Linked DNA regions of Homo sapiens: region 2 is linked to region 1. Evidence: fine-mapped expression QTL. Tissue or cell type: B cells. Region 1 holds a variant in brackets; the other region holds the start of a gene. All regions are shown on one strand. Distances are from middle to middle.

What was found. PIP is the estimated chance that this variant, and not a neighbour inherited with it, causes the effect.
Region 2: MGST2 starts here. The variant in region 1 is the best candidate, but not a certain one, in a credible set for the expression of MGST2 in B cells (Fairfax 2012, PIP 0.62).

What each region holds. Positions count from the first base shown.
Region 1 is chr4:139,687,514-139,692,889 of GRCh38, reverse strand. All of the region lies in intron 2 of MGST2 (microsomal glutathione S-transferase 2), which reads right to left. Among named protein-coding and RNA genes, the nearest start is that of MGST2, 24 kb to the right of the region's middle. RefSeq lists an enhancer at 239-288. The variant C/G (reference allele first, on the strand shown) is at 2,862.
Region 2 is chr4:139,663,740-139,669,115 of GRCh38, reverse strand. MGST2 (microsomal glutathione S-transferase 2) reads right to left here and starts at 3,297. Exons shown (of 5, transcript NM_002413.5): 1 at 3,039-3,297. The coding sequence starts at 3,096. RefSeq lists enhancers at 3,073-3,242, 2,539-3,738.

The sequences.
Region 1 (5,376 bases):
CAAAGAGATAATATTGTGTAAGAATGTCCTAAGTCCAAACTGCACTGCAGAGGGCAGAAGCCCTTTGGGTGTCTGTCCACATAAATTGATAGGCATGTGTGCTTTTGTGTCTCTTATCTGAAAGAGGAAGAAGGCCTTTGAGCAAGGAGAAAGGAAATAAAAATAGAGGGGATGTTTTGGAGTTCCCCTGCTGCCCTCACAAGCTAGGGAACTAGTTTCACACCTAATGGGAAACCAGAGACCAGAACAGATGCTGACGGATCGTCCTCATGAAAAACTTGGTGAGATTCCAGATACAAGTGGTGCCATGCCTCAGATGACAGAAGAGACAAAGTCGGGGAGAGTCACACCCTTAATCTCCCTCTGCCACAGACCCAGAGCAGCTCCTGGTGGTGGTGGAAGGCACTCCAGAACCTGGGGAGGGTATTGTACTCACAGAGGACTGGGGAGCAGGACAGTGGCATAGCCCCTTGCTTCAGCTGCTTGCCAGCAGGAGCTGTGTCCCTGGGCACATCCCCTGTATTCCCAGAAGGAATTGGGAAGATGGGGAACCGGGGTGCTGGGATCCTGGGTGAGCAGCAGGTGGCTGGAAGCCACTGAGATTTAGGCAAGGATGTGATTGCAGCTGCGTTTGTGCTCACAGGATGGCAACACCTGGAGTACTGGAGCAGCTCAGCACCATATCTCTGTACCTTTCTTTCTCAAGAAATAGGCCCTTTGTCCCCTACAAGTGGCTGGTCACTGCTGAGCTCACCCCAACCTCACGTCCCAGCTGTGCTCATTGTACTTTCACCCTGGTCCCTCTTTTGCTGACCTGCCTCAAGCCTTAGTCCCTTGGAAATGAGACTTTGCCCATTTCTTGCTATCATCTCTCAGAGATTGAAAATAATTGCTGGGCGCAGTGGCTCATGCCTGTAATCCCAGCACTTTGGGAGGCCGAGGTGGGCAAATCACGAGGTCAGGAGATCGAGACCGTCCTGGCTAACACGGTGAAACCCCGTCTCTACTTAAAAAATATAAAAAATTAGCCGGGCGTGGTGGCGGGTGCCTGTAGTCCCAGTTACTCGGGAGACTAAGGCAGGAGAATGGTGTGAGCCCAGGAGGCGGAGCTTGCAGTGAGCCGAGATCACGCCACTGCACTCCAGCCTGGGTGACAGAGTGAGATTCCGTCTCAAATAATAATAATAATAATCATCATCATCATCATCATCATCATCATCATCTGACTGCCAGTGGGGTGCCCTGTTTGTTGCTGACAGTCTTCCCTGCTGCCTGCCTGGTGAAAGCACCAAGTATTGGTTTGGCCTTGAAATACCTGGAATCCCATTCTACCTGCTAATTGTCACCTCCTCCAGCCCCTCCACCATGTGACCATGTCCTTCTGCCTGATTCTGGGTCCCTCCAGGCCTGGATGGTGTCCCACAATAACACGTCCTCAGTAAGCTGTCAGCAGGCATGTTTAACTCAAGGGGACCAAACTCTGAAAATTACTTCTTGACAATCCTGTCAGTGGCTAATTACAGTTTCATTGACATGAAAATAATTTATAGCCTCTTTTAAGTCATGAAGGCAGATATATTCTATCCTCTTATTACAGGGGATCCTCAGGAAAATTTCCCAAATGGAACAGCAAACAGCCTGCAGTAGCTGTCAATCTTCCCTTCCTGTGAGAACAGGGGGTAGAGTTGATTATGACCACTGTCTCCTCTCTGCATGTCCATACTGGAAAAACAGGCTGTCCATGGGAAAACAGGCTGTGTATACTCATTCCCTGGCGAGAGCCCTCTTTGAACAATCCCCTGCTCCTTTGATATTGAAGCTTCCCATGAACGCTATCTTGGTTTGCCTGGGACTGAGGAATTTAGGGGGACATGGAGCTTTAAGTGCTAAAACTGGGTAAGACCCAGAAGAACTGGAAAGAGTCTGGTGGGCACTGTGGAGATTGAGTAGTTAAAGCTGCTGAGACCCCTTGTTGTTCATCCCAGTACCATGGAGCCTGGGCCCTGGGGGCTCAGGACTACTGCACATTCCCACCTGGATCTGGTAACCAGGAGCAGTAAGGATGGCCCAAACTAAGTGCTATTTGGGCCTTGTCTCAGTCAATAAGTATACTACAAAGTTTATGTTATTTGGGGGTGGGAAAAAGAATCAAACTGTGGCCTGGCAGCTCCAAATGTGGCAGTTCCTTCAACACTAGTCTCCAAACTTTTCTGATTGCATAGCTCTAACAGTTGCACAGCCCCATAAAAATATGCACACATCCTCCTGCAGCAGAGGAGGCCCACACCCAGGAGCTCCCACATAGGACCAGACTTGAGCAAGACATGAACTTCCACTGTGTTAAACCATGGAGAATCTGGGATTTATCCATTAGCACAGCTAATACATTCAACTGGAAAAGAATATCATATTCATTATAAAACAAACATCATAAAAATTAAAGGATGGGGGATCAGGAAGCTGGTTCACACCTGTAATCCCGGGCCTTTGGGAGGCAGAGACAGAAGGATCATTTGAGCCAGGAGTTTGAGACCAGCCTGGGCAACACAGTGAGACCTCATCTCTATAAAAAAATAAAATTTTTTTAAAAAAATTTAAGGCCAGGAGCGGTGGCTCACACCTGTAATCCTAGCAGTTTGGGAGGCCGAGGCAGGTGGATCACTTGAGGTCAGGAGTTCAAGACCAGCCTGGACAATATGGTGAAACCCTGACTCTATTACAAATACAAAAATTAACTGAGCATGGTGGTGCGTGCCTGTAGTCCCAGCTACTCAGGAGGCTGAGGCAGAAGAATCGCTTGAACCCAGGAGGCGGAGGCTGCAGTGAGCCAAGATCGCACCACTGCACTCCAGCCTGGGCAA[C/G]AGAGCAAGGCTCTGTCTCAAAAAAAATTTTTTTTAATTAAAGGATAGGATTTTAAGAATAAGTATAAACAGATGCTCCAATATTTTCCTCACCCTCACAGTGGATTACTTAGTGTATTCCTTCAATGTGGGCACATCACTTGGGAGACTTCTGGCCTAAAACTTTTTATGAATATTTCTCTATTTGACCGTGTCCAACGAACACAATATGCAACTTTGCTTGCAACAACTTTGTTCAGAAAATATGAAACATTCTCCTAAGGAAAACCTCATGAGCCATTTCTAATGCCAGGTTCACAGTAGATCTTTTTCTAAATAAAAACAGACAAAGCAATTCAAAGGAAGTTTGCTTCTTGCAGGTTTTCTGTTTGCTTCTGATTTTTTCTCTTCTTGTTTAGGTGACTCATCCTGAACCAGTGGGCTGTACACTGCCATGAGCCATTTGCACTCTGAATGGATGACCCGGCCTTGGTCTTCTGACTTTGGACCCTGGGCGGTCTTTTGGATGATTACACTGACTGGGATCAGAGCAACAGGTTAATATGCTCAGAAAAGGCTTGGGGATGAGAGGTTGCTGGAGTTAATCTTTTTATAAAGACGTGTAACTGTCTAAATTGCTCCTTGTCAAGTAACTCTGAGTGGGACACAATAGGGAGGTGGCGGCTGGTGGCAGGAGAGCATGAGTCCCACCACTGCCCTTCAGTGGTGCTGCTTGTAGGGAACACAAAGAGCATGCAGGGAAAGGAGATTTGCAGTTCCTCCACCTCCCAGCTCCCTCTTGTCCCCTGACCACCTGGAGAATCTCCCGGATTATGTGACAGATGCTGCTTGGTATTGGTAAGGACACTGGAGTTTGAGGAGCTCATCACACAGAGTCACTCTGTCATTTTGGGAGATCCCTTTTTTTTTTTTTTTTTTTTTTGAGATGGCGTCTCACTCTGTCACCCAGGCTGGAGTGCAGTGGTGTGATCTCAGCTCACTGCAACCTCCGCCTCCTGGGTTCAAATGATTCTCCTGCCTCAGCTCCCAAGTAGCTGGGATTACAGGCATGTGCCACCACGCCCAGCTAATTTTTGTAATTTTTAGTAGAGACGAGGTTTCATCACGTTGGCCAGGCTGGTCCTGAACTCCTGACCTCAAGTGATCCACCCACCTTGGCCTCCCAAAGTGCTGTGATTACAGGCACGGGCCACTGCGCCCAGCCCCCAGCCCTTTATAATAATTCAGTGGATAAGGGCATCTAGTGCTTTCTGCTATTGTCCATGATGGTTACACTTGTAAGAAAACAGGAATATGTTTACTGTCTCTTTTTTTTCCACTTATTACAAAAGCCAGTTGCCCACATTACTGTAATCTTATAGTTGCACAATACCTGAAAAATCACTATTCTTGTAAATTTTCTTTTTCTCCATAGTTTTTAGACATGCATTAAGGTCACTAGTTTTAATTTCCAAATTTCAGAATCAGAATTCAAAATGACATTAAAAAGTTAATAAAATGTAAAAAAAAAAAATACAGAATCACAGTAGAATGAGAAGAGGCTAATATTTCTAAAGGGTACCGAGATTCACGATGATCAGGCTTACCTGTGCCTTGTGGCAGGTTAATTTTGGAACAGGAACTGAATAATTCAGCATTAAGCAAATAGGAGTGCATTCACAAGAACTAAGAAGCAATTCTTCTGTCTTAACCAGCACCAAAGAAACCATTATTAGTATACTAGATATACATCTAGACTCCAGGTTTAGAAATAATATTAAAAATTTTTGTCTAAAGAGAACCAAAATTTCTAAATGGTTGGAGAAAAAAAGCTGAAGAATTAGTGCTCCCTAGCCTCAAAATCCAGAAGATGAAAGATGCTTAATAATGGTCTTTCAGCACATGAAAAGGAGTGAGGTCAGCAGCTATTCTCCCCTTCCAGTGAAGGTAGAATCAGAGGAAATGTATTTAAATTGCAAGAAAATCAATTTATTACTTGGATCTACTTTTTAGATTTTATAAAATGACTTTACTCTAAAGGGATCAAGGTGCTCAGATTAGATGAGATAGAATTTTCTAAATTCAGTAATAACGTAAAGGAATGGTCCTTGGTGAAATTATAGTTGCTATTTTCACAATTTTAAAAAATGTATTCTGGCAAAAGACGGCAAGACTCTAGAGACTGTCATCTGTAAGTCCTCTCCTGTAAGGAAGGGAAGAGGAAGTGAATGGAGATTTTAAGGAGCCCAGGGCTAGTAACTCAGAAAGGCTGGACTCCATATCAGCTCTGGTCACAAATAGATACCCACCCTGAGATGACCTTCCAACAAGAAACAGTCCTTTAGGATCAGTGAACCTTGAAGTGACGCTGATGAGATGTCCAGGTCCACCTAAAGATAGAATTAGTCATAACTTTGGGCTTCTTGGCTATGCTGAGGGCAAAATCAGCAGGAGAAAAGGGTAGGGAAAAGGCTGGACCTCTAAGCTCTAAGTCCTTCCAAAGAGGCAAAGGGAAACCAGTGCTTCTGGTCCAGGA
Region 2 (5,376 bases), 24 kb after region 1:
CATTATATCCTCCGCCCTTTGGAATTCAGGCATAACTGACCAGCATTAACATTGAAACAGACCTTAATGTTAGTCCAAACTACACCATTTTGTAAGCCCCCTGCCATTTCACAGGCCTTTGTCAAAGTGAAACATTCCATGGGGGTTCGGGCCCTGAGAAATCCTGCCTAGCCACCTGACCACAAGACACAGGAACATCTTTATCATACCCTGCCAAGCAAAGACCCAACTGAAGAAATATCCCTATCAAATCCTGACAGAGCCCAAGGAATATCCCTGGCCAAACCACCTGAACATAAGAACATCTTATCAATATCCTCCAGGGCAGCAAGCCATACTGCCCAAAACCCTCCTGCCCATACCTGTACATACCCCAGCCTGTAAGCAATGGCGGGCTCTGGCATTAAGCTGGTCCCCCACCTCCACAGGTTTTTGTAATAAACCTGTGTTGTTGTAAAGCCTCTCTCTCTCTCCCTCTCCCCCTCTACCCCCTCCCCCTCCTCTCTCTCTCTCTCTCTCTGTGTCTTTCTTGAACCCCACCTTCCCTTTAAAAAATCTAACACTTAAGACTTTTTGTAGAAATAAGACACCAAATTCCAGCCTGACTCCAGTATAGCATCACATGACAGATAGCAGGCCTTGAAAGAAATTGAAGTATTTTACCCTAAAATATATTTCTTTGTCATATTTTGAAATGGTCCTGCAAAGTTGTCTCTTGTGGGGAAAGTCTACATTCTGTAGAAAATCCCTTTCCCTTGCCAGGTCTTTTCTCTGATCCAGGAGAGAATTAACAGAGTCTGGCACCTTTTCAAGTCTCATAAGAAACATTTACAATCTATTCTCTCCAAACGCTGCTACCTGGAAGCTTCATTTGCATAGTAAGAACCTTGGCCTCCACAACCCCTTATCTTAACCCAGGCACTCCCTTCTATGGATTTGAGGTCTGTAGATAAACTCTTTTAATCAATTGCCAATCAGAAAATCTTTAAATCCACCTATGACCTGGAAGCCCATGCCCCACTTCCAGTTGTCCCGCCTTTTGGGACCAAACTAATGTACATCTTACATGAATTGGTTGATGTCTTATGTCTCCCTAAAATGTATAAAACCAATCTGTAGCCAGACCCCTTTGGGCAGATGTTCTTAGAATCTCCTTGGGCTGTGTCACCGGCCACTCGTCCCTCATGTTTGGCTCAGAATACAGCTTTTCAATTATTTTACAAAGTTCAACTCTTCATCAACATCTTTTTTTTTTCTTTGAGATGGAGTCTCGCTCTGTTGCCAGGCTGGAGTGTAGTGCTGTGATCTCAGTCCACTGCAACCTCCCCCTCCCAGGTTCAAGCGATTCTCCTGCCTCAGCCTCCCTAGTAGCTGGGACTACAGGAGCGTGCCACCATGTCCAGCAAATTTGTGTATTTTAAGTAGAGACGGAGTTTCACCATGTTGGCCAGGATGGTCTCGATCTCTTGACCTCGTGATCCACCTGCCTTGGCCTCCCAAAGTACTCGGATTACAGGGGTGAGCCACCGTGCCCGGCCCTAACACCTTGTCATTAAACATTCCCTGTCCACCATTAATCATCATTCACCCAGTCTCCTCTCCTCTCTCCCCACCCCTACCCCCACTCCATCCAGCCCCCTAACATTCTGGCCCCAGTTCACACAGCCCCCTGCACAAGCAGCAAACAGGGAGGATGAGCACCTCTGTCAGCTTTGGGACATCTGTGGACCTGCAGGCCTAGGATAAAGGCGCATGCAGGTTTGGTAGCACCTGTGAGTCAGGATGCTACCAACAGTGAGCCTTAGACCTGCTAAATTAGGTTTAGCCTAAAGCTGCCTTCTGACATATTTTAAGTTCAGCCTAAAGGTTTCTCCGTACATCGTGAACTATATGCTTCCGTTTTCTGGGAGTCGCTTTCCTTTTTCTGTCCATAAATCTTCTTCTACCACGTGGCAGCCCCAGAGTCTCTCTGAACCTATTCCGGTTCCCCATGCCCAACTGTGAATCGTTCTTTGCTCAATTAAACTCAGTTAAATGTAATTTGTCTAGGGTTTTCCTTTTAACAGATCTAAGTGCTTCTTTAATTAGAAACAAATATCCTGCTCTTCTCCACAACAGATTGTGTGAATCAAACCACAAAACGTGAGTCTGAAGGTTCAAGATCTTCATACAATCTCAAAACAGACTGGCTAGGCAAGACATTGAGCATGCACGGAGGCCTGGACTGGATCCTCAGCTGTGAGGCCTTCCTGCTTCTGGCTGTTTGTGTAACCTGAGCAGTCTACGGCTTGGCCCTATTTCCTGGTACAGGCATACTTGGAAATATAAAGAAATATGCATGCTTGGTAAGAAGTCTTGCACTCTTGCACTCGGACCCCTTTCCCCAGCTGACATTGTAGGTAAGATAATATGAATTGAGCAAATGTGACTCCCATGGAGTAAAAGCCCTCTATTTAACCAGGCAGTCGAGATATTGAATAATCCTAGTGGGAAGCTGTTTTAAAATTTAGAGCTAATTACTTAATCTAAAGCTAATATTTCTGAAGGAAGTTTTTTTCAATCTGATAATCATACCACCATAGGCAGTTTATTTAAGAAAACACATTAATTAAAACATCAACGTTCAAGAAATCACAACCAGGTTTAGAAGCAGGCACGTTTCCTTTGGAACACTTGTAATTAATATTCACACCACTTCCTGCAGGTTAGCAGGCTACTAACGCTCGTTTGAACGGGCTGTGGGTCGTAATCACAGATGATGCAGAATCGCTGAGCTCTGAGGCCCCACAGCGTTCCAGTTGGGAGAACTAATCTCTGGAATGTTCTCAGTCTCTGCTTGCCCCTGGGAAGGAGGGTAGCAGGCGGCATGGGTGACCCTGAGGCGACTGTGCTCTGAGGACCCAGAGCTACCTGCAAGGGCAAGTAGGAAACAAAACACCGGACCCATCTCCCTCCCTCCCTCTCTCTCCCGCAAGCCTTGTCACACACACACACACACGCACACACGCGCACACACACGAACTTCCCATGCCTCTTACTTTGCTGACAGGCCGAGAGAATAGAGACAGCAGCCAGCAGGATCGAGTTCCCGGCCATCTTTCTCACGGAACTATTTGTAGAGCGCACGGGAAGATAAATGGCGCTTCTTGACTTTGAATGCTGACCTTCCTTATCGGGTAAACAAAGTTGGGGACCGGGTGGGGGGAAAAGGCTGATTCAAGCGGCTGAATGACCTTTGCTCTGGAACAGAAGTCAGGAAGGCAGGCAGGTCTGGGGCTGCCGGTCACAGATCTTTATGGGGCTGGGAGTTGCTTCCGGCGTTTGTTTTAAGCCTCTCCCACGGCCAGCGGGCAGGGCTGTAGCTCACTGTGGGACCAGCCCTCCAGCCGCAGTGCCAGTTACACTATCTTCTCTGCCAATGCACAGACTCTCTGGATCCCTTTCATCCCCACGCCCTTCCCTCCTAGGGCCTTGCTGAGACCTTTCTCACCTCCTGTGGAAAAAGTGAGAAGGAACTACTTACTTAATCCTGTTGACATTTTAAATGCTAATTTAAGCCAGTTCTAATGTATTCACGCTCTGAATGGCCGATTTAGGATTTGAACCCAGTCTAGCAGATTACAACTGTGCCCTATCCCCTGCACCAGGCTGCCTCTCACTGTCACCTAGAGACTCTGATAATAATCATACTTTTTTTTTTTAAGACAGGGTCTTGATCTGTCACCCAGGCTGGAGTGTGTGGTGGCACGATCATAGCTCACTGCAGCCTCCAACTCTTGGGCTTAAGTAATCCTCCTGCCTCAGCCTCCCAAGTAGCTAGAACTACAGCCACAAGTCACTGTGCCCAGCCATTTTTAAAAAAATAAACCGGCCGGGCGCGATGGCTCACACTTGTAATCCCAGCACTTTAAGAGGCCAAGGAGGGTGAATCACGAGGTCAGGAGATCAAGACTATCCTGGCTAACACAGTAAAACCCCTTCTCTACTAAAAATACAAAAAATCAGCTGGGCATGGTGGCACGAACCTGTAGTCCCAGCTACGCAGGAGGCTGAGGCAGGAGAATCTGCTCTTTAGAGATGCAGATTCTGGCCTGGAAGGATGGCTCATGCCTGTAATCCCAACAGTTTGGGAGGCTGAAATGGGCAGATGGTTTGAGCTCAGGAGTTCGAGACCAGCCTGGGTAACATGGCAAAACCCCATCTCTTAAAGAAATACAAAAATTAGCAGGGCATGGTGGCACGTGCCTGTAGTCCCAGCTACTTAGGGGGCTGAGGCAAGGGGATTGCTTGAACCCAGGAGCCTGAGACTGCAGTGAGCCAAGGTCGTTCCACTGCACTTCAGCCTGGGTGACAAAGTGAGACCCTGTCTCAAACAAATAATAAAAATAAAGATGCAGCTTCCCAAAAACCAGAGCTGGGGGCCTTTCCTCACCCCATCCTACAGCACCATTAGAGGGTATATCTTGGCTCAAGCTGCTATAACAAAGATACCATAGACTGGGTGGCTTACAATAGCAATTTATTCGTCACAGTCCTGAAGGCTGGGAAGTCCAAGATGACAGTGCTGGCCAATCAGTTCCTGGTGAGGGCCCTCTTCCTGGTTTGCAGAAGGACACCTTCATGTTGGAGACAGAGAAAGAGTAAGCTTCCTGGTCACTTCTTATAAGGGCACAGATCCCATTATGGGGGCCTATGCTCATAACCTCACCTGTAGCTAATTATCTGCCAAATGCCTGATAACATCACGTTGGGGGTTAGGGTCTCAACATATGAATTGCAGAGGGGACACAAACATTTAGTCCCTAGCAGGGAGCTCCCAGTGTCTTCTGGGGAGGGCAGTTGCCTCAGCCTCACACAGACCCTACAATTTAATAACACAACCTTGGGCCTCTCTGAGCCTCCATTTAATAAGATAGGGCTAATAAGAGCTGAAGAGAAGTTTAAATGACATAATCCTATTCTAAGGATTGAATTAGTTAATACTTATAGAGCACTTAAAACAGCACCTGGCATATACAAATGTGTTCTGTGTGTCTGCAAAATAAACACATAAAGTATCTAGACAAGTACTTAGCATATAATGTACCTAATGTTAAAAAATACTTTCAGAGGCAAAAATCATGCCTTTCATACAACATAAAATGAAAACATATCAAAATTTTTATGTAACTCATTCATGAGGGAACCAGTAAGATGTTATAACCAGTTCAAAGTAGAATTCATGGAACTACACATATACAGGAAAGAAGGAATAACAAAATTAATTTATAAATAGTTGCAAGCCAGGTCTGCTCAAAGTTTCTGTTGGTCTTCAGGCTTCCTTGGCTGTTTGCTCTTGAAATCATTGACAACTAAGATTAGATAAGAAAGTAGAGC